Linked DNA regions of Homo sapiens. The protein of the gene in region 5 purifies or fractionates together with the protein of the main gene of each other region. This does not show direct contact. Each region holds a gene or a part of one and is shown on either strand. Other genes may lie near its edges.

Evidence for each region.
Region 1: the proteins of MAPK8IP1 (region 5) and KLC1 purify together in Homo sapiens (affinity purification with western blotting; one study listed by BioGRID). This does not show direct contact.
Region 2: the proteins of MAPK8IP1 (region 5) and MAP3K13 purify together in Homo sapiens (affinity purification with western blotting, with the first as the bait; one study listed by BioGRID). This does not show direct contact.
Region 3: the proteins of MAPK8IP1 (region 5) and RAB10 purify together in Homo sapiens (affinity purification with western blotting; one study listed by BioGRID). This does not show direct contact.
Region 4: the proteins of MAPK8IP1 (region 5) and SETX purify together in Homo sapiens (affinity purification with mass spectrometry; 2 studies listed by BioGRID and IntAct, with this or other methods). This does not show direct contact.
Region 6: the proteins of MAPK8IP1 (region 5) and PAX2 purify together in Homo sapiens (affinity purification with western blotting, with the first as the bait; one study listed by BioGRID). This does not show direct contact.

The regions. Positions count from the first base shown.
Region 1 is NC_000014.9:103,667,211-103,670,710, reverse strand, and holds part of KLC1 (kinesin light chain 1), read right to left. Parts: intron 1,201-3,500; coding exon 1,113-1,200; intron 530-1,112; coding exon 428-529; intron 1-427. UniProt on the Homo sapiens protein: Kinesin is a microtubule-associated force-producing protein that may play a role in organelle transport. The light chain may function in coupling of cargo to the heavy chain or in the modulation of its ATPase activity.
Region 2 is NC_000003.12:185,474,636-185,478,135, reverse strand, and holds part of MAP3K13 (mitogen-activated protein kinase kinase kinase 13), read right to left. Parts: exon of another isoform or gene 1,787-3,500; intron 1,653-1,786; exon of another isoform or gene 1,552-1,652; intron 1,094-1,551; exon of another isoform or gene 811-1,093; coding exon 740-810; exon of another isoform or gene 1-739. UniProt on the Homo sapiens protein: Activates the JUN N-terminal pathway through activation of the MAP kinase kinase MAP2K7. Acts synergistically with PRDX3 to regulate the activation of NF-kappa-B in the cytosol.
Region 3 is NC_000002.12:26,124,584-26,128,083, reverse strand, and holds part of RAB10 (ras-related protein Rab-10), read right to left. Parts: intron 941-3,500; coding exon 851-940; intron 235-850; coding exon 133-234; intron 1-132. UniProt on the Homo sapiens protein: The small GTPases Rab are key regulators of intracellular membrane trafficking, from the formation of transport vesicles to their fusion with membranes.
Region 4 is NC_000009.12:132,295,987-132,299,486, forward strand, and holds part of SETX (probable helicase senataxin), read right to left. Parts: intron 2,327-3,500; coding exon 2,094-2,326; intron 1,069-2,093; coding exon 901-1,068; intron 43-900; coding exon 1-42. UniProt on the Homo sapiens protein: Probable RNA/DNA helicase involved in diverse aspects of RNA metabolism and genomic integrity.
Region 5 is NC_000011.10:45,892,151-45,895,650, reverse strand, and holds part of MAPK8IP1 (C-Jun-amino-terminal kinase-interacting protein 1), read right to left. Parts: intron 1-3,500. UniProt on the Homo sapiens protein: The JNK-interacting protein (JIP) group of scaffold proteins selectively mediates JNK signaling by aggregating specific components of the MAPK cascade to form a functional JNK signaling module. Required for JNK activation in response to excitotoxic stress.
Region 6 is NC_000010.11:100,752,082-100,755,581, reverse strand, and holds part of PAX2 (paired box protein Pax-2), read right to left. Parts: intron 1-3,500. UniProt on the Homo sapiens protein: Transcription factor that may have a role in kidney cell differentiation. Has a critical role in the development of the urogenital tract, the eyes, and the CNS.

The DNA.
Region 1 (3,500 bases), on a different chromosome or scaffold from region 5:
TAGTCAGTTAAAAACACATCACAGTGGTTATTTCTCAAAACCTAAAACCGAAAAATTTTTAAAAACACAAAAAACAGCGCCGGGCACAGTGGCTCAGCCTGTAATCCCAGCACTTTGGGAGGCCAAGGCGGGCGGATCAGGAGGTCAAGAGATTGAGAACATCCTGGCCAACATGGTGAAACCCCATCTCTACTACAAATACAAAAATTAGGTGGACGTGGTGGTGTGTCCCTGTAGTCCCAGCTACTTGGAAGGCCGAGGCAGAAGAATCACCTGAACCATGGAGGTGGGGGTTGCAGTGAGCCGAGATCACGCCACCGCACTCCAGCCCGGTGACAGAACGAGACTCCATCTCAAAAAAAAAAAAAAAACCACACACACACAAAACAAAAATCTCAAAGAAAACGACTGCCCCCTTCTTTTGTACCTTTTCTCGGATTTCCAGAGCTCTTTTACACAACGGCTCTGCTTCTTTGTACTTCCCTCTTTTACCATAAAGGACTGCAAGGTTATTCAAAGTCGCCGCCACCTGTCAACACAGAGAGAACCACTAAGAATGGTAAAAGATAACCAAATAAGAGTACATTTATACACCACATATTCATTTATATTCAATCTATACAGTAAAGCATTCTTAGTCGGATAGAACAATATGACTTCAGTTAAAATGAAAAGCGCAATTCACTAGAGTATAGATTATACAAAGTAACACTGCAGAATACTAAAATTAAACAAATCAACAACGTATTCCTGACTTTTTAAAAATTTCCCTGGAAGCCACAAAGCCAACCAAAACAGATTCATATGCAAATCTGACCAGATTTTAATGAAGACAATATAATTTTCAGAAAAAAATTTCTAGAAGGACATGCAATTTGATTTACAATCAAACAATACAGTTGGTGATCCATTTGAGGTGGGGTCATAAACAAATTAAGTGTGCTCTGGCCTGTCACTAGCACTGAGTAAGTGAAGACCTCCTACCTGCACCATCTAGGGAAAAGGCAGCACTTAAACTTTCCCTGTTGAGTTTAATGGTAAAATGAGTTGGATAAAAGAAATATATGGGGAAAATAAAATATTAAAAGAATGAAAGAACTGGATATACAAACCGCAGGATGATCTTTGCCCAAAGTTTTCTCACGAATAGCCAAGGCATCATTCAGTAGGTTAGCTGCATCTTTGTATTTATTCTGATCCCTAAATGGAAAAACACACATTAAGTGTTTCAGATGTAGATCACTACAGCTTTTCTTTTCTTTTCTTTTCTTTTTTTTTAGACAGAGTCTGACTCTGTTGCACAGGTTGGAGTGCAGTGGTGCCATCTTGGCTCACTGCAACCTCCGCCTCACGGGTTCAAGCAATTCTCTGCCTCAGCCTCCTGAGTAGCTGGGATTACAGGCATCTGTCACCACGCCCGGCTAATTTTTGTATTTTTAGTAGAGACGGGATTTCACCATGTTGGCCAGGGTGGTCTCAAACTCCTGACCTCATGATCCACCCGCCTAGGCCTCCCAAAGTGCTGGGGTTACAGGCATGAGCCATCGTGCCCGGCCTCACTACAGCTTTTTTAAATGTAATTTTCAACTACAGAAATAAAAGTTAAGCTTAAACTATTTAAGAAAAACCACAGGGCCGGGTGCAGTGGCTCATGCCTGTAATCTCAGCACTTTGGGAGGCTGAGGCGGGCAGATCACGAGGTCAGGAGATCGAGACCATCCTGGCTAACATGGTGAAACCCCATCGCTACTAAAAATACAAAAAAATTAGCCGGGTGTGGTAGCAGGCGGCTTTAGTCCCAGCTACTCGGGAGGCTGAGGCAGGAGAATGGCGTGAACCTGGGAGGTGGAGCTTGCAGTGAGCAGAGATCGTGCCACTGCACTCCAGCCTAGGCGACAGAGTGAGACTGTCTCAAAAAATAAATAAATAAAAAGATGGGTGTGGTGGCTCACGCCTGTAATCCCAACACTTTGGGAGGCTGAGGCGGGCGGATCACGAGGTCAGAAGATCGAGACCATCCTTGCTAACACAGTGAAACCCTGTCTCTACTAAAAATACAAAAAAAAATAGCCGGGCATGGCAGCATGCGCCTGTTGTCCCAGCTGCTGGGGACGCTAAGGCAGGAGAATGATGTGAACCCGGGAGGCGGAGCTTGCAGTGAGCATAGATCGCGCCACTGCACTAAAGCCTGGGTGACAGAGCAAGACTCCGTCTCAAAAGAAAAAAAAAAGAAAAAAGAAAAACCACAAGCTTATGGATGGGGAAAAAACACTGGAAGGAAATCCACCAATAAATGGACTGGCAAGGTGAACTCTGGAATCAGACCCAACTAGCTTCTGAACTTAACCTTCCCATCTAGGCCACTGGGAAGATAATGTCCCCACACTACAGTGTTGTCCTGCCTATGCCAGCTGGCCAGCACAGAATAAGTGCAACAGTCTAGAACAATGGACCAAGCTTGCATTTGGTTTCAGACAGAATTAATTCTAGTGTCTGAGCTTGGGCTCTACCAGTTAATGGCTACATGGCTTTGGGTGCATTACGTGACCTCACGCAGTCCCAGCCTTCCCATCTACAAAGCAAGTATATGATCTATTGCACAGTCTTGCTGTAAGAAGATGATATGCTACATGTATACTGAAAAAATATTTTAAAAAACAACAAACAAAAGTAAATATATTGTTGTGTCTGAACTTGGTACCCAGTCTCCCTCCATTTTGTTGAGTATGGAGGAACGAAGAATCTTTCTTGATTGGAGTAAAACAGAAACACCCCAGAACCAGAAACTCTCAGTTTAAGCGTGCTACTCACTACTGATGTGACTGAGAACAAGTACTTGCTTTTGAGACTTAGCACACATCTTTCTCAATTGAGTAGTAGTAACTGCCTGGCAAGGCTTTCCCCTGAAAAACGTGAGAAAGGTTAATAAGGCTTCTACAACCTCTGAAGCACACTAATTCTGGCCACGTATTAATATATTGTTGTTTCTTCTTTCATCCTATTACATCCTATTGTAAGCTGCCTCAAACTTTTTGTGAAAGTCAGCAAGTACAAAATAGAGTTCCAAAAAGTAGTGGCCAGGTGCGGTGGCTCACACCTGCAATCCTAGCACTTTGGGAGGCTGAGGCGGGCAGACTGCCTGAGCTCAGGAGTTCAAGACAAGCCTGGGCAACACAGTGAAACCCCATCTCTACTAAAATACAAAAAATTAGCCAGGCCTGGCGACATGCACCTGTAGTCCCAGCTACTCGGGAGGCTGAGGCAGGAGAATTGTAGCAAATGCAATTTAAAAATAAGCTACCAAGGCTGGGCACGGTGGCTCACGCCTGTAATCCCAGCACTCTGGGAGGCTGAGGCGGGTAGATCACCCGAGGTCAGGAGTTCAAGATCAACCAACATAGCAAGACCCTGTCTCTACTAAAAATACAAAAATTAGCTGGGTGTGGTGGCAGGCACCTGTAATCCCAGCTACTCGGGAGCCTGAGGCAGAAGAATCGCTT
Region 2 (3,500 bases), on a different chromosome or scaffold from region 5:
TTATCTAATCATATTTAACTTGAGATATAAAATCTAAGGCATGGGGAATGCTATGGACTGAATTGCCTTCCTCCCAAATCCATCGGTTGAAGCTCTAAACTCCAATATAATTGTATCTAGATAGACCCTCTAGATAGGGTCTTTAGGAGGTAATTAATATTAAATGAGTTCATAAGAGTGGACCCCTAATCCAATAAGACTGTGACCTTTTAAAAGAAGGAAGAGCTCTCTCTGCCATGTGAGGAAACAGCAAGAAGGTGGCTGTCTGCAAGCCAGTAGGAGAGCCCTCATCAGGAACTGAGTCAGCTAGAACCTTGATCTTGAACTTCCCCAGCTCCAGAATTGTGAGAAATCAATTTCTGTTGTTTAAGCATCCAGTTTGTTACAGAAGCCTGAGCAGACCAACACAGGGAGGCACACTAGAAACCAACACAATTACCCATAAAACAGCATGGCCATCTGTCACAAACTGCCCACTGTATTCTCAGTTGTAACCTTGAATCTGTATTCATGCTCCTCATCATGAAGTTGCTGTAAAATGAATGCTAATGAACTAGGATCTGCTGTGCACGAACAACTGCCAAAATGTAGCAACAGGAAAACATGAACACAGTGAGTTCAAAGTTCCCTATAAGGTGGCTGCCAGGGAATCACCTGTGGTTGAAGAGCAGGTGTGGCAAACTTAGGATTTTTTTTCCCCATTCCACTAAAAGCAATCGTGTGCATTTGTTGGTTTTACCTCTGTCTTCGTGGAAATTCAACTTCACTATCTACTTCCCCTTCTTCCTCTTCTGAGGAGTCATCTCCACTCTGAGGAGAACAAGGATTAAGAGTTTTATTTATTTTAGTGTCACTCTGTCTCTCTCACCCCATCCCCACTAACTGTAAAAAATGTAATTATCATCAAAAGTCATTCATTTAGTAGTAGCTTGCTGAATGTCATCTTTAAACATACATGTCCTCATTATTCATTTAGTAACTTTTCCAGGGTACCTATGATGGCGGGCCTGCATGAGATGCTGGAAGACGTGTAGAACTGAGTGAAATTTTCTTTGTCCTCAGAGAGGTGATGGCTCTATTAAAGTGTCCAGAGGTGAGTGATGGAGAGGGAAGTTGGAGAGGAGGTCTTGGATTTGGGGTCAGTCTCTTGTAATCATTGTCACTAGTGGTTCCAGGCTCTGTTATAGAATTGATCTTTGAAATCCTCAAAGCCGAACAATTACTTTTTCCCTTTTTATATACCAATCCCTTTTTCACTAATATTATGTAGTTAGATAGACATTTTTGAGGGTCAGACTATATCCTGTTTGTACTGTATGCCTCACTCCATTAATACAATACTGCATACAAAATTGGTGTTATCCCTATAAATATATATAATTATTGTTTGTCAATTAAAAGAAAGTGCTTAATGCATTTTTATTGAGTCAGCATGTTGGCAGCAATAAGGGAGCTCTGGCTGGGACACCTGAGTCCCCGTGATTGCTGGGGCTCCATGGTTGATCTGGAAGGCGGGGTAAGTGTCCTGACTGAGGTGATCTTCCTTTACAGAGAACTCATCTCACACCAAGGGCATAGGAGCAGCCACACTTAAGATCAACTGTCCTTAACCACAGCATCATGATACGCTGGATTACCCAATCGCTTGTAAGGTGGGTAATTGGGTCCAAGGAACTGTACCAAATATTGAGAATAATTTACCTTTTAAAAAGTCAGTTCTAAAATATCATGAATCTTACTCATTTGTATTCTGATATGCTTTTTTTTTTTTTTTTTTTTAAAATAGGAAAGACAGAGATGAAGTTATCCTGACTGCTGAGATGAGCAGTTTACCCTAGGAGGACCTGTGGGACTATGTTTTGGTAAAGAAAAGTTGAGCTGCTCTGTGGGAGTGAGGTTCCAATGAAGCCAAATGTACAAGGTGTGTGTTCTATGGCCTAAAGACCCGTAGATGGTATCACAATGGCATGAGAAAGGTTCAAAGATACATGTTATTTGGGGGAGCCTGGGGAATGTGGTGACTGCTAAAGGGTGTGGGGTTTCTTTCTGGGGTGATAAAAGTGTTGTAAAATTGGTCGTGGTGATAGTTACACAGCTCTGTGGATAAAAAGCATTGAACTATACACTTTAAATGGGAGGACTGTATGGTATGCAAATTATATCTTAATAAAGAAGTTATCAAAAAATACAAGTTACTGGCCATCGGAGTTGGAAGAGGAGAGAATGGATCGGCCCAAATCAACTGCACCAGCTGAAACACAATTTTATGTATTTATTTATTTATTGAGACAGAGTCTTGCTCTGTTGCCCAGGCTGGAGTGCAGTGGTGCAATCTTGGCTCACTGCAACCTCTGCCTCCTGGGTTCAACTGATTCTCCTGCCTCAGCCTCCCGAGTACCTGGGATTACAGGAGTGCACCACCATGCCCGGCTAATTTTTGTATTTTTAGTAGAGACAGGGTTTCCCATATTGGCCAGGCTGGTCTCGAACTCCTGACCTCAGGTGTTCCACCCGCCTTGGCCTCCCAAAGTGCTGGGATTACAGGTGTGAGCCACCGCGGCCACCCCCTGAAACACAATTTAATCTCTGGGACTGCTTAGTCAGTATAGGAGCAGCAATGTAGGTGGAGGGGGAAATGCAGTTCCCAGATGACAGCCCTCAGCTTCAGCTTCTTTTCTACTCAATGCCTAGTTGACCAAACATACTCATTACATTTTATACCCTTTCATTCCTTCAGCTAAATTCCTGGTGAACAATGATGATGAGATGAAACCATACTTAGAATTGGGTGGGTGTCTACCATGTTGTAAACATTTTTCATACATAATCTTATTTTTTGACTCATAGCAAGAAGAGCTAATACTTTTGGAAAAGTGCTACGTTCCAGGCCCTGTTCTAAATGCTTTATATGTATTTATGCATGTAGTCTTTATAGCAACTGATGAGGCAGAGTCCAATATTAGGCCCATTTTATAGACAAGGAAACTGAGGTCCATAGAGGTACTAAATGGAAGAGCGTGGCTTTTTTTTTTTTTTTTTTTTGAGATGGGGTCTCACACTGTCGCCCAGTCTGGAGTGCAGTGGCGGGATCTCGGCTCACTGCAGCCTCCACCTCCCAGGTTCAAGCTATTCTCTGCCTCAGCCTCCTGAGTAGCTGGGATTACAGGTGCCTGCCACCACGCCTGGCTAATTTTTGTATTTTTGGTAGAGATAGGATTTCACCATGCTGGCCAGGCTGGTCTTGAACTCCTGACCTCATGATCCACCTGCCTCGGCCTTCCAAAGTGCTGGCATTACAAGCATGAGCCACCGTGCCTGGCCAAGAGCCTGGCTTTAAAGTAAGGTCTGTCTGACTCCTAGGCTCATGCTCTTAACTGCTATGGTAGTCTGCTTCCCAGGTAACAAATCCCAGGCAGCCAGTGGATAAGGAGGAGAGAAACAGGTTTCAATGATTAAGAACTATCTGGGTCACGATGCCTGTCAATTAAGGCAATGTTTTC
Region 3 (3,500 bases), on a different chromosome or scaffold from region 5:
TGGGGACTGCTGCCCTACAGAAACAATACCACCCAAACTCAAATTCTGTATGTAAATCCAGTACTTCAGAATAGACAAAATATTCAACAGAGATACTCAGGTACCTGGCAGGATATAAAAACAGGAACTTACCTTTCGAAGGATATCTTCAGCTAACGTGAGGAACGCCTTTTCGATGTTTATATTTGCTTTTGCACTAGTCTCAAAAAACCTAATACCATGCTCCCTTGCAATCTAAAACAGAAACAAAATATCATCATAAAATTATCAAGCATGGGTTGCCAACTGCTGACTTTAACAGCTTAAATATTAATCTTATTCTGAAGGCAGTGGTCCCAACTAGAATATATAACACAGAATATTTCAGCAAGTCAAGCTCTTTCATAAAACAAACAAAAGAAAAGTAATCTCCTTACCCCAAAAGTTTATTTCAGATATTCTAAGTCAGATACTTCACACTGGGGGCAAACTTATGAGAAGCTCAACCTGACTCCTCAGGGTCTAATTTCTGCTCACCATAGGCTCCTGATTGTCACATTTTAGAACCATACTAATTGATACATTTCCTTAAAGTCCTAAGTTTAAAAACCGAGGATTAATGACTTATATTTTTCTCTCTTTGTAGTTTAAATAAGGCTAAAAATACTATGGGCACATTTGATTCTCCCATACATGTTAAATATGCACTGAAAAAAAATTCACTCAAATGATAAAATATTATTTCCAACAAGCATTTTAAAAACTATGTAATTAGCTTAGTGTGTTCGATCACTATTACTATAAAAATAATCAAAAGTAGCATTACCTTTACAAAGACAGAGCAGAGTATCAGTTTAATTCAGATTTTTACCTGTTCTCCTTTTCCTTTAGGTACAACTCTTTTGTCGTCCATATCACACTTGTTTCCTAGTAACATTCTTTCCACATCTTCATTGGCATGCTAAAATGAAATAAAATTTTACTTTTACATACTACCATGAATTACGGCTTAACAGTCTTTAAAAGTGACTTTATTCTCTCAATTTAGAGGGTCATTTCTATAGCTTTGAAGTTTTAAAGCAGTCACCCTAAAACTACTCCATACTAAAAGCCTACACAAATTCTTAGATTACCTAGCAAAAGAAACGCAATTCCCAAGACATATCCATGTCAAATACTATTTCCTCCCTAAAGGAGGCTGTCTACTTTCTAGGTATGTTCTTTCTTACCAAAAGAGAAGATACAAGCAAAGAAACTTGCATAATCTAAATCCAGGCTGGATCATTTCAGATTTTATAATGCATACTACCCTATAGAAGCCTTAATTAAACATTTTATAGAGCCTTAAACTCTCAAATAGCTGTGCTGCTATGGCACAAGGAGGTCCATGCAGAAAAATCAGTTAAAAACAAGTGGTTGTCCCCTTAAGATCCCAATGACAATTTTTGCAGAAATAGAAAGATCTATCCAAAAATTCATATGGAATCTAACATCAAAAGAATCTCTCTTTTTGAGACAGAGCCTTGCTCTGTTGCCCAGGCTGGAGTGCAGTGGTGTGATCTGGGCTTCCTGCAACTTTCGCCTCCCGAGTTCAAGCGATTCTCCTGCCTTAGCCTCTTGAGTAGCTGTGAGTAGCTGGGACTACAGGTGTGTGTACTACCATGCCAGCTAATTTTTGTAGTTTTCTGGTAGAGATGGGGGGTTTTGCCATGTTGGCCAGGCTGATCGCGAACTCCTGGCCTCAAGTGATCCACCCCCATCGGCCTCCCAAAGAGCTAGGATTACAGGCATGAGCCACTGAGCCCAGCCAAAATAATATTAGCTGGGGGAGTCAAATTTCAGAACTTACTGCAAATCAAAAAGTGTGGAACTGGCATAAAGACAGATACACAGACTAATGGAATGGAATAGAGAGCCCAGAAATAAATCCTCACATACTTAGTCAAATGACCCTCGACAAGGATGCCAAAATCAGTCAATAGGGAAAGGACAGTCTTTTCAATAAATAGCACTAGGAAAACCAGATATCCACATGCAAAACAATGAAGCTGGATCCTTATTTTAAACCATATAAAAAAATTAACTTGAACTAGATCAAAGACCTCAAACTATAAAACTCTTAGAAGAAAACATAGGGAAAAGCTTCAGGACACTGGATTTGGCAATGGTTTCTTTGACATGATACCAAAAGCACAGGCAATAAAAGAAAAAGTAGTTAAACTGTACTTCATCAAAGTTAAAAACTACTGTGCAACAAAGGACGCTATCAAGAGAATGAAAAGACTACCCACAAAAAGGAGGAAATATTTGTAAATCATGTATTTGAAAGGGAATAATACCTAGAATATATAAAAAACACCTAAAACTCCTAACAACAACAAAAAATGACAGCACTTTGGGAGGCTGTCAGGAAAATTGCCTGAGCCCAGGAGTTCGAGACTAGCCTGAGTAACACTGTGAGACCTCATCTCTACAAAAAATTTAAAAATTAGCCAGGCACGGTGGTGTGTGCCTGTAGTCCCAGCTACTTAGGAGGCTGTGGTAGGAGAATCACTTGAGCCTGGGAAGTTGAGGCTGCAGTGAGCCATGATCATCATGCCTCTGTACTCCAGCCTGGGGAACAGAGCAAGAACCTGTCTGGAAAAAATTTAAAAAAAAAAAAAAAAAAAAGCAAGCAAAGGATTTGAATAGACATTTCTTCAAAGAAGATATACAAACAAACAATATGCACATGAATAGATGCTCAATATCACTAAGATTAGGAAATGCAAATCAAAAACCACAATGAGAGATACCACTACATACCCATTAGTATGGCTACTATTAAAAAAACAGAAAACACATATTGGCGAGGATGTGGAGAAACCGACACCTTTGTGTACTGTTGGTAGGAATGTAAAATGGTGCAATCACTGTGGAAAAGTCTGGTGATTCCTCAAAAGGTTACACACAGAATTATCATATGATCCAGCAATTCCACTCATGGGTATACACGCAGAAGAATTTAAAGCAGGGACTCAGATATTTGTACACCAGTGTTCACAGCAACATTATTCACAATAGTAAAAGGGTGAAAACAACCCACATATCCAACAATGGGTGAATGAATAAACAGAACATGGCATATAAAAACAATGGAATATTATTCAGCCTCAAAAAATAAACAAGTTCTGACACATGCTACAATGTAGATGAACCTTGAAAACTTTATGTTAAATGAAGTAAATTACTTACAAATTGAACAAATACTATATGATTCCACTTATATGAGGTACCTATAACAGTCAAATTCATAGAAAATAGAATGGTGACAGTTGCCAGGAGATGGGGAAAGGGGGAGACAGAAATCATTGTTTAATGGATGCAAAGCTTGAGTTCAGAAAGATGAAAAAGTTCTGGAAATGGATGGTGGTGACGGTTGCACAACAGTAGAATGTACTTAACACCACTGAACTATACACCAAAATAATAGTTAAAATGAAAATTTCATGTTGTATGTATTTCACCACAATTTTAAAAAG
Region 4 (3,500 bases), on a different chromosome or scaffold from region 5:
TTTGGCATTGGAGTTTTCGTCTGAATGCCCCTTCCTCTGGTTCTACAATTTGCCACATATACATACCAAACAAACACACAAAAAATATGGGTGAGCTCTATTACATAGCTTTAAAGTTTGTCTTTACTTCCATGTATTTTTGAAAGTTCTCGTAATAAAGTTAAAAATAAATAAAAGCATCTACATCTAACACTGATATTTAAAATTACTCCAGCAAAAAAATTTGTCATAACTGCTCTGAGCCTTACTTTATCATCCACTTACTTTAATGAATACTCAATCCAAGCCAGGCACAGTGGCTCACGCCTGTAATCCCAGCACTTCGGGAGGCCGAGGCGGGCGGATCACTTGAGGTCAGGAGCTCGAGACCAGCCTGGCCAACATGGCGAAACCCCATCTCTACTAAAAATACAAAAATTAGCTGTGGGTGGTGGTGTACGCCTGTAATCCCAGCCACTAGGGAGGTACTCGGGAGGCTGAGGCAGGAGAATCACTTGACCTGGGAGGCAGAGGTTGCTGTGAGTCAAGATCGTGCCACTGTACCCTAACCTGGATGACAGCGAGACACTGTCTCAAAAAAAAAAAACAAAAAACCACAATCCAACCAAAATGCAGCCCAGCATTCACAGCATTCTACGTGACCTACCGTGAAGCCTGAAGACCATCATTCTAGTCCTTACGATTTGTTTCACATAAGATAGTGGTTTTTTCCTCTTTTTATTTCCCATAACCTTCCCTCCCTCTGCCACCCTTTTCTCTGACACAGTTACACACAATATAAAAAATATATACAAATCAAAGAGGAAATGGCATGTTAATACTTATTTACATGTCAGTTAACTCAAGTAAAGTAAAATGATACAGCTAGTTAACAGCATCAGTGCCCTCACCCATACCTACCTCTGTCAGTAGACGATAGAGGAGGCCAACAATAGTTTTTGATTTTCCTGTTCCAGGTGGTCCATGAATCAAGCAGATTTTGGCAACTGATGGTGAGTGTTTCACCATAGCATATGCAGTTTCTATTGCTTTCTTTTGATCTTCATTGAAATCTCTTAAGTACGCAATCTATATAAAAAACACATTTTTGAGAATGAGTTGCTGTTTCTGTAGTGGAATTTGAAAGGAAGAACATGAAAAAGACCTGTCCAAATTTCTTTCAATGCATGAGACAAAAGCTTTGGTTATGGTCAGACAAGACAAGGACACCAAAGTGACCTTTAATCTAAAAAGCACGTTCACTACTGGAAAGAAAGCTAATTACTTACTAATTACTAATTAGTGTCTGTAACGCTTCAAGTACTTACAAATACAACTGTACTTTTATTTTTTATTCTTACAAAGATAATCACAATAAATTGCATTTACTAATCCACAACTTTTCTTCTATTTACTACTCTGTTTTTTTCCTTCTTTAGTCAATTTTCTCCTTAGTGAAAACATCCCAAGACTATTTATTTCCTAGCACATGTGATACAGTGGAAAAAGCATGTATGCCAGGGGAAGATCTGGGTGTAAGCTTCACTTGCACTTACAAGCTAGGCCACTACGCTCCTAACCCAAGCCTTGGCCTCTGTTACTCATTAAATCTAGGATTCCTTAAGAGGTGAGAACAGACTGAGATAATGCACATGAAAGCCATAGCATACAGCTCTAGAGTTTCTAAATAGTTAGTTTCCTTTTGCATTTCTCTGTTAACTTCCTAGAGTTTATACACAGCTTCACATGTTCAGTTGACAACTTCATCTTTGCATTTCCAACAATACCGGCCAATTCTCCATCAATCATTCAAATGTAAATTTAACACCACTAAACCTGAGACTTCTCACCTAATGCACATTAAGTAGGCTGCTGACCTAACATTTTAATGTTGCTCTTCCAGCAACCTTCGACGCTTATTGTACTGTACCTTTTCCTGAAGTGAGCTGACTTAACCTAAATTACATACTTTGCAATACTAAAGAAAACTAACACTAAACTGTTCACCGTGAACACATTTTTGTTGTAAACATATAGGAATACATAGCAGCTAAAAAATATGATGCTTTAACATCTTAACATGAAATTATCTAGTATCATACATCATCACTCACAATTCTCTCAGATGTTGTAGTCAGTAAATCTTTTGTACAGAAGTCCATAGGGTTTGGATTCAGAACAGCTCTAGCCAGTTGGTTCCGACTACCCAACAGAGACATGGCTTTCAACTTCCTTTGTGTAGTTACCAGAGAACTGATTACAATACAATTCACAAGTTCGTTTAAATTGGCCGGAAAGTTCTCTTGAGTCTGGATGGAAAGGTAACACTCAGTTTTCCCATTACGCACTATCATCAAGAAAGAGAAAAAGCAACTTCAGTTATCACTGAATAATGCTGCCTAGTTGTAAAGGTCATGCAGAATTAGGTATTTTTAACATATTTTTGGATATTATTTACATAATTTACCCAGTAAATATTTATGGACTGCTTCCTGAACCCAGTAATGTTCTGTCCTCCGGAGGCTTATTTTCTAGAAGATGGAGGCAGATAACCAAATAAATATGTCAGGTGGTAGTAAGTGCTCTGAAGAAAGCACACAAAGGGAGGAAGTGATGGGGATGGAGGCAGATAAGCTGGTCCGAGAAGGTCTTCCTGATGAAATATTTGAGCAGAGACTTGAAGTAAGGGAGTAAACAGTACTCAGCAGAGGGTAAATAGTACTACATGCAGAAAATAAGCAACTGCAAAGATCGTAAGACAGAGATGTGCCAGGAATATTTTAGAAATAGGGAGAAGGCTAACATGGATAGAAGGAAAAATAGGGAGAAGAACGCTTAGCGACTCAGAGTAAAACGGGGCTACATTTTATAGGGCTGTGCAGATCACAGTAATGACTCTGAACGCTATTCAGGATCAGGGTAGAAAACCATTGGGCACTCTGTGTAGGGAAATAACATGCTCTATCTCACAAACTAAAAGAACCACTCTTACCTCAGAACAAAGAATAACTACAATGAGAAAAGTACAGAAACAAAAAGACCACTTACAAGGTTACCATAGTAATTTAGGTAAAAGTTAATGACAGCTTGGACCAGGAGGCACTAGTAGACGTGGGAACTGGATTTGGGATATATTGCAAAGGAAAAATCAATCATATCTGCTGACAAATTAGAAGTGAGGTGTGAGAGAAAGTAAGGATCATGGATAACTCCAAGGTTTTTGGCCTGAGTAACTGAAAGAAGTGAGGCCCCAATTAACAAGATGGGAAAGAATGAAGGAAGTGCAGATGTCAGGCAGAAAATCAAGTGTTAACTTTTGGACTAGTGGATTTGAAATGTCTAACACATTTCCAAATGGAGGTATCCAAGACATGATTTTGATCTATGAGGAGTTCAGGGAATGAGACTGCCTTAGAACTATAAATTTGGCAAAGGTAATCATTTTCAAGAGCCAAAAGCACAGAGTAAGCCATCAATCCTCACTGCAACTCTTCTAAATGTATCCTATATTCTACAGAATT
Region 5 (3,500 bases):
TATATATATATATATATTTTTTTTTTTTTTTGAGACGGCCTTTCGCTCTGTCACCCAGGCTGGAGAGCAATGACATGATCTTGGCTCACCGCAGCCTCTGCCACCTGGGTTCAAGTGATTCTCCTGCCTCAGCCTCTTGAGTAGCTGGGATTGCAGGTGTGCATCACCATACCTGGTTAATTTTTGTATTTTTAGTAGAGACAGGGTTTCACCATGTTGGCCAGGCTAGTCTTGAACTCCTGACCTCAGGTGATCTGCTCGCCTCGGCTTCTCAAAGTGCTGGGATTGCAGGCGTGAGCCATGGTGCCCAGCCCCCCTGCACACATCTGTGTCTCCTCACACATGGCTCCGCTTCCTCACTGCCAAGCCCTAGTCCAGCTCCTGCCTCTGCCCTCCCAGATGTCCCCACTGGCCTGTCTGTCTCAGTCTCCCTATGCCTGCACCATCCCACTCCACCTGCCACTATCAGGCAAAACTGCCAGAAATGCCATCATCCCTCCCGCCCCACTTGGAACCCTCAAGGCTCTCCACTAGCAGCAGGTTCCTGTGCCTGCAGGCAAGGCCTCCAGCTCCATGCGTAGTCTGCGTGGGCACTGTGTCTCCCCAGTGCCAAACCCAGTGCTCAGAGGGAGCACGTGGCAGACTCTCAAACCATGCTTGCTGGAAGAGTGCTCAGTTAAGCTCATTCTTCCAGGAAGCCCTCCCAGCCCTTGCATGTGGCTGATGTCACCATCTGCCTGGATGTACAGTAGTGTGTGCAGCAGACAGGGCCAGCCCTCCCTCAGAAACACCCACTTCCCACCCCCTGGCTGCTCCAAAGGTGGATGGGGCCTGTATCCAGCACCCTGATTGATGACCCTATACTGTACCCAGCAGGTGATCAAGACCCCTTCCTCCCCTTGCTCCTGGAGGGCAGAGCTGGCGAGTTCATCCTGCATACACTGAGTCCTCAGCATGAGCCTGCTAGATGTCTGTCACAGGACAGCCTCTGCCTCCACCTGCTCCTCTCGAACTGCAGGCTGGAGCAGGGCCTGCAGGGTCTGGCTTAGACCTGGGTTAGAGGCTTCTCAGTTCACTTCTACACCCTCAACATCACCTGATATTCCCACTTCCTTGGACAATAGGTCTGGGTGGGGCAAGGACAGCAGCATTCTTCCTGTACAGCTGAGGGCACTGGGCTTTAATTGGGCAATGCTAGAAAGAATACTGGGCTGGGGGTCAGAGAGCCTATGCCTGATCCCTGGCTCTACTGGGGTGGGTTAAGGGGGATGCTTTGTCTGACTTTTTAGGTGCCTCTCATAAGTAAGGCAGGATGGAAGAATGATCACCATATCAGGCTTGGAAGCAGGAGGCCTGAAATAAATCCTGACTCTTTCACGTTGAAGCTGCCCCATCTTGGCCCCAACATTTATGCCATGCATCTCTCTTAATCCTCATTGCAACAACCTTGGGAGAGGGTTTGTTCCATTTTTCCCATTTTACAGATGAGGAACACTAAGGCTTAGACATAAAGGTGCCTTATGCTTCAGCTTCCCAGATACAGGATGAAGCCACCAATCCCTGCCCACCCACCTCAGAGGGCTGGTGAGGGTTAGCAGAATGGAATTTGTGTGAGTAGGAGGTCACTACCAAGGATCAAGGGGGACTGATTGGTCAAAGAGTACCCTGTGCAAGTCACCCCCCATCCAAGACTCTGCCCTTTCCTCTTTTCCAGGCACCAGATGTTCTGGCCTCCCAGCTAAAACCCTGGGGGGTCCCTTTATGGAGAGAAGGCTAAACAGACACTTGGTCCCTGAAGGCTCATGGAAGGTCAATGTGGGGAAGGGAGGGAAAGGAGGAGGGAGGAAAAGATGGAGGGGAGAAGGGAGGGGAAGAAGGGGAAAAGAGGGCGGTTCCCTCCTGTCCCGCCTGATCCACCCTGCTCATGGCAGCCTTAGCACCAGGAGGCCTCCAAACTGAATCCTACGGCCCTCCGCAGGCCGGCCTCCCTCACCTCTGGGTCTGGAAGTTTCAGCAGTCTCCTGTAGAAGCAGCCCCTGCCCACCCATCAGACCTGCTTGTCTATCCTGGATGCTGTGATCCTTGAGACGTCATCCATATTAACGTTTGGTGGCTCTGAGCTGTGAGTTTGGTCTCTGGAGACCGCCCTGACCTTTCTACCTGAGGCCCTGTTCCTGCATTCACCTGATCCCTCCTACTCTGCTGCCCCAGTCCTTGCTTTTGCCCTGCCAGCTCCTCACTGTTCTCGCCATACCAGCTCCTGCTCCCACCCCACCCTGAGCTGCACTTTTCTAAATGGCCCTGAACAAACATGCCTTTTGTGTTCTGATGTTGATTTCAGGCCCTTTTCCCCTGCCTTGCTGGGTCACATTTCCACCAACCACAGTCCTGCCCTTTCTAACGGACTATTTCAGCTCCGTAGTAGGCTGAGTTAGAAGTGTATGTAAAGCAAAGGTTAAGTGGTAAAGTGCTGAGGCTTTAGCTGAGCAAGGCCAAATCTGAGCCAGGCATTGGCTGTTCAGATGTCATTCTTGGGCCTTTGTGTTCCTGGCTGTGCTGTGGTGAGGAGGTAAGGATGCCAGCTGATTGACCTTGGGTCCTGGCCACAATGCCCCACAAGCCTCTCTTGTGACAGAGGGCACGTGTGGTCCAGGGATCCAGCCTGCCTCTTTGCAGCCCTCTAAGTGCTGAGAACGAAGCTGGCTCCCAGTGAGTTCTCAGGACACCTGTTGACTGGCCGCTCAACCCTAAGTGGGTTCCCCATTTCCCTCTGGTTCCTCTACCAGCCACTCTCCACCAGGTAATGACAGCAAAGCTGACCTCTGAATTACAAATCTGGTCTGGTCACTCTTCCCAGCTCAAAGCCCTTTAATAGCTTCCCCTGGTCCTTAGGAGAAGGGGCCCAAATTCTCATCTGTGGCCTGAAGGCTCTGTAAAGCCTCCTTTCCCTCCAACCAGTATCATTTCCCTTCATTCCCCCCACCTCCCACCTTTATCTCCTCCTTCAATAGCGCAGCTCCCAAAGCAGTAGCATGGTCTCCTCTGCAAGCCTTCTCTGACCTCTGGGACCAAGCCAAACCGCCCTGCTATGGGCTCTCGGAGTCCCTCCTGGCTGTGGTTCCGTATCACTGTAATTTTACCTTTGGGTTATGCGGCCCGCGGTGGCCTCCCCTTGGAGTCAGTTAATCCATATGGGTGGGATCATATCTGTTTTGATCAACATGTGTGGTGCCTAATAGGTACTTGACAAATGCTGAATGAATTAACCACAGGTGTCCCAGGGCTCTCTGGATTTTTGCCTTGGAAATCTCTAAGTTAGTCCACTTTTCCAATCAACTTCCTGTGTCCCCACCTACACCAGAGTCTGGGCTAGGATGTCAGGTCCTCTGGGAAGACGGTGCTGGCTGAAACGGTGGGGTGGGGATGAGCCAGACCCAGCATCCCTCTCAGGCCCTCGCTCTACCCCCACCACCTGGCTCTGGGTGAACATGGGGTTGGGC
Region 6 (3,500 bases), on a different chromosome or scaffold from region 5:
CAGCCTGAGCGATAATAAAAGCAATTGAGTAGGTTACCTGTGCAGACACAAGATTTATGCCTCTTCATATTTGATGTGATTGTTTTATTGAGTTCTCAGAACAGTTGGGACACTATTTATTTATTCATTTTGGGTTTTCCCTCTCTTTTCTTCTTTGCGTCACCTTCTGAAATGCACCTGGAGCTGTTGTCAGGCCCAGTGCCTCCTGTCTGCCTCTTCTCGAGAGTTGCCAGCTGAGGTAGGAAGGCAGGGCAAGCAGCAATTGCTCTCACCAGAAACCCCTTTTGTAGCCTGAACACCCACAGAACCAGCCAACAGGGAGACAGTCAGACCAACAGGACTGTGGGCCAGGAAGCCCAGGCTAAAACAACTACAAAAACAAAAAGAGGCTTTTCAGGAGGACAACTCCAGCTCATTTTAAGGAATGAGAATTTCAACCATCATGCCTGTTTCAAATGTTATTCCAATGATGGGTAACCTCACAGTAGGGGACTGTCTCTGGGAAAGGACAGGTGAGCGAGGCTTCTCTGACAGAAATTGGCATGTTGGTCTGCTATTTGTGGGCCCAATCTGCTAGGCTCAGGCCACAGAAGGTGAGTTCCCTGTCCTTGTTTCTGCCATTCCTCTGTGGATAGAAGTCTTTTTCTGAACTCTCCAACTTGCCCTGTCTCTTTGCCATGAGACCAACAGCCCTGACCACCAAACAGCTACAAAGATATGGAGATGTGGTAGGCAGTACCACCCCTCTGGCCAAGCTTCATGCCAAGCCAGGTCCAAGAGTAGAATAGGCAATGTTCTGGAACCTGAGTTTCAGAGAGGGAGAAACAGACCCTAGCCCGGAACATATCTTCAACATTCACGGGGCTAGGATTAATAGCTCCCAGCTTATTTGGAAAGGTCTTTGAACGAACAACTAGTAGACCATTGTCACCCCACTGCCTGACCCAAGGGGAACAATGACCTGAGAATGACTCAAAGACCTGAGAATGACAGAAGAGGGACACCCAAATGATACAGGATGGAATTCCTTAACACAGCCCTGGGTTGCCACTGCTAGGAGAATGAATGTACTCACCTAGAGCCTAACAGGCTAAGAGAGAGTGTGGATAGTGGGAGATCCGTGAGAAGTTGATTCTGCCAGGGTCCACTCCAAAGATCTAGGGGCAGAGAGTGCCCTGACTCCAAAGAGTGTTAGGCAAGCTAAAAAAGTTAGAAGGTGACACCCTTATTGTCAGCTCTTCCCAAAAGAGCACCCTCGGGGGATTGTCAGTAACCCCAGACTCTATTTGGGGTCTGTGCCTGTTCTTTCAAAGGAGGTGTATTCTCTGCCCAGAGTAACAGCCAAACCAGAAGATTTTGGCATATAATCAGGAAAATCCCTCCTGCTTAGACAATTGCTCAGCTATGTAACTAGACGACTTTTTCCTTTTTCAGTAGCATGGATCTCCCTCCACCTCTCCCCTCTCCAGGCCATGTCCCACACCAGGTTTCAATCTAAAGTCCCCTGTTTATAAACACCTGCCCTTTACAGCAGCGGTGTACAAACCAAAAAGCTGGCAACTCCATGCTCAGCCATTGGTAACCCAATGTTTAGAAAGATTCAGATAAATTCCACATGCTAAGGAGCCCAGTCAAGCCTTGGGATTTTTGAACGTGGTTTGTGGCAGTGGGGAGGCCTTCCTGACCCAGTCCTCTGGTTCAGAGAGGCATTTCTGAGGATTTGCTAGTGGAGAATACAGGCTGGATGGCCAGGCCTTTATCACAACAGAATCAGAGAATGCCAAAACCATTTTTAAAGAGTGAAAAAAGCAATTTAGTTTATAACCATAACAGCATATTTCAAGTGTGGCGACAGCATCTGTTTTGGGAAGGAGAAGATGAAAAACCACTAGCTCAGGTGGGTGAGCATGTGTGGACTTCTTTTCTTGCCAACCACCAGCTCATGCACAACCTTACTCATAACTGTTATAAAGTACCCAACACAAGTGGGCAGGTCACTACCAACAAAGCTCTAAACTCAAGAACCACCCGTTCCCCGGTGCACCACACTTTGTGCACACAGGAAAATCTCCGGGCTCTTCCTACAGTGAGTGAGAATTCCCAGAACTGATAAAAGGCAAAGTTTCTGATATAACCAGCACTAGCAGAAACATCCTGTTTTTATCAGGCTTTTGGGTGAAACAATACATCTCAGATAAACCTTCCCTCTTCAGAGCAAAAAGCACCTACAGGGATGAAGATGAGAGCGTGGTTCCCCAGGTGGATTTCTCCAGCCCCAACTCAGCAGCACACAGGGAAGCCCCCAGAATTCTTTCCAAAATATGAACCATGAGAGGATTCTGGACAAAAGCAAAATTGGGAATAGTTTTCCTGCTCCTTGTAGACAAAGCCAGCCATGAAGCCTAACTACGGACCCAGGGTAGGCTGCCCGTGTTGTTGGTGGCTTACCTGTTCCTCTCCTCCTACTCCCTCTCCATCTCCAGCAACATCTGCCCACAGATGGCTATTTCTCCACACCCAAAGGAAGCCTGTGTGCCCCTCAGGTGATAGGGCTCTGTGCTGGGCAGGTTCTGCAGCTGTCACAGCTGTCAAGCTGAGGCTACTCTTTCCCCACCCTCATCTCACTTGTGGCTCACTTGTCTACTTTGTCCTAATTCTGGTGGGTGCACCTCAAGACCTCTGGAGCTTGATCCTAGGGTCACCTGGCCCTTGTTCTCCATGGCTTTTCAGGATAGAAGTATTTCCAAACTTATGCCTAAGCCAGCTTCCAAAATCATCTCAGCCAATGAGGAGTGCATGTTGTTGAGGGGAGGGGCAGGGGGTGTTGGACGGGGCCACCACACCTGACTTGTTGCGCCACTCCTCTACCCCATTCAAGAGAAACAAATTACCTAAATCCTACATGACTTGGGTTTCTCCAAAGGCTTGAAAATTCTGTTACTGACAACAAGCATTTCTCTTAAATGTTCTGCAGAAGACCACTACCCAGTCCCAGCAACACTGCACACAGCAGGGCCACTCTTGGCCCTTGGCTGTTCTTCTCTTGAGATCTCAGTTCCAACTCATGCCCAGGACCAGCAATCAGCCAAGAGACTGAGTCTCTACATGGCTCATAAAACAATGCTTTGTCCCCTTCCCCTCCCGAAGTGCCACTCTTGCCTCAGCCCAAAGCTGCCCCAGCCTCCTCTCCTGGCTTTTAAAGCAAAGGGCTTATTCCTCTCCCAAACCACCCAGCGTCTTTCTCCAGCTCCTTTGGAAGGTATCTGAATGTCAAATCGCTATGCTTTCAATACCTGGCTGAGCCAGGCCGAGGGAGCTGGAGGGTTTTCGGAGGGTGTATAATTAGCTGATCAGTATTATGTTACCCTGTTCATAACTGAATAACCATTTTAATACAGATGGCACACACTGGGATAATTTCTGGGGTCGCCTCGCAGTACATTACAGCACGAGTGTGGCAGAGGGAATCTTCTTTAGCCAAGGTACATTCTACCAGCTAA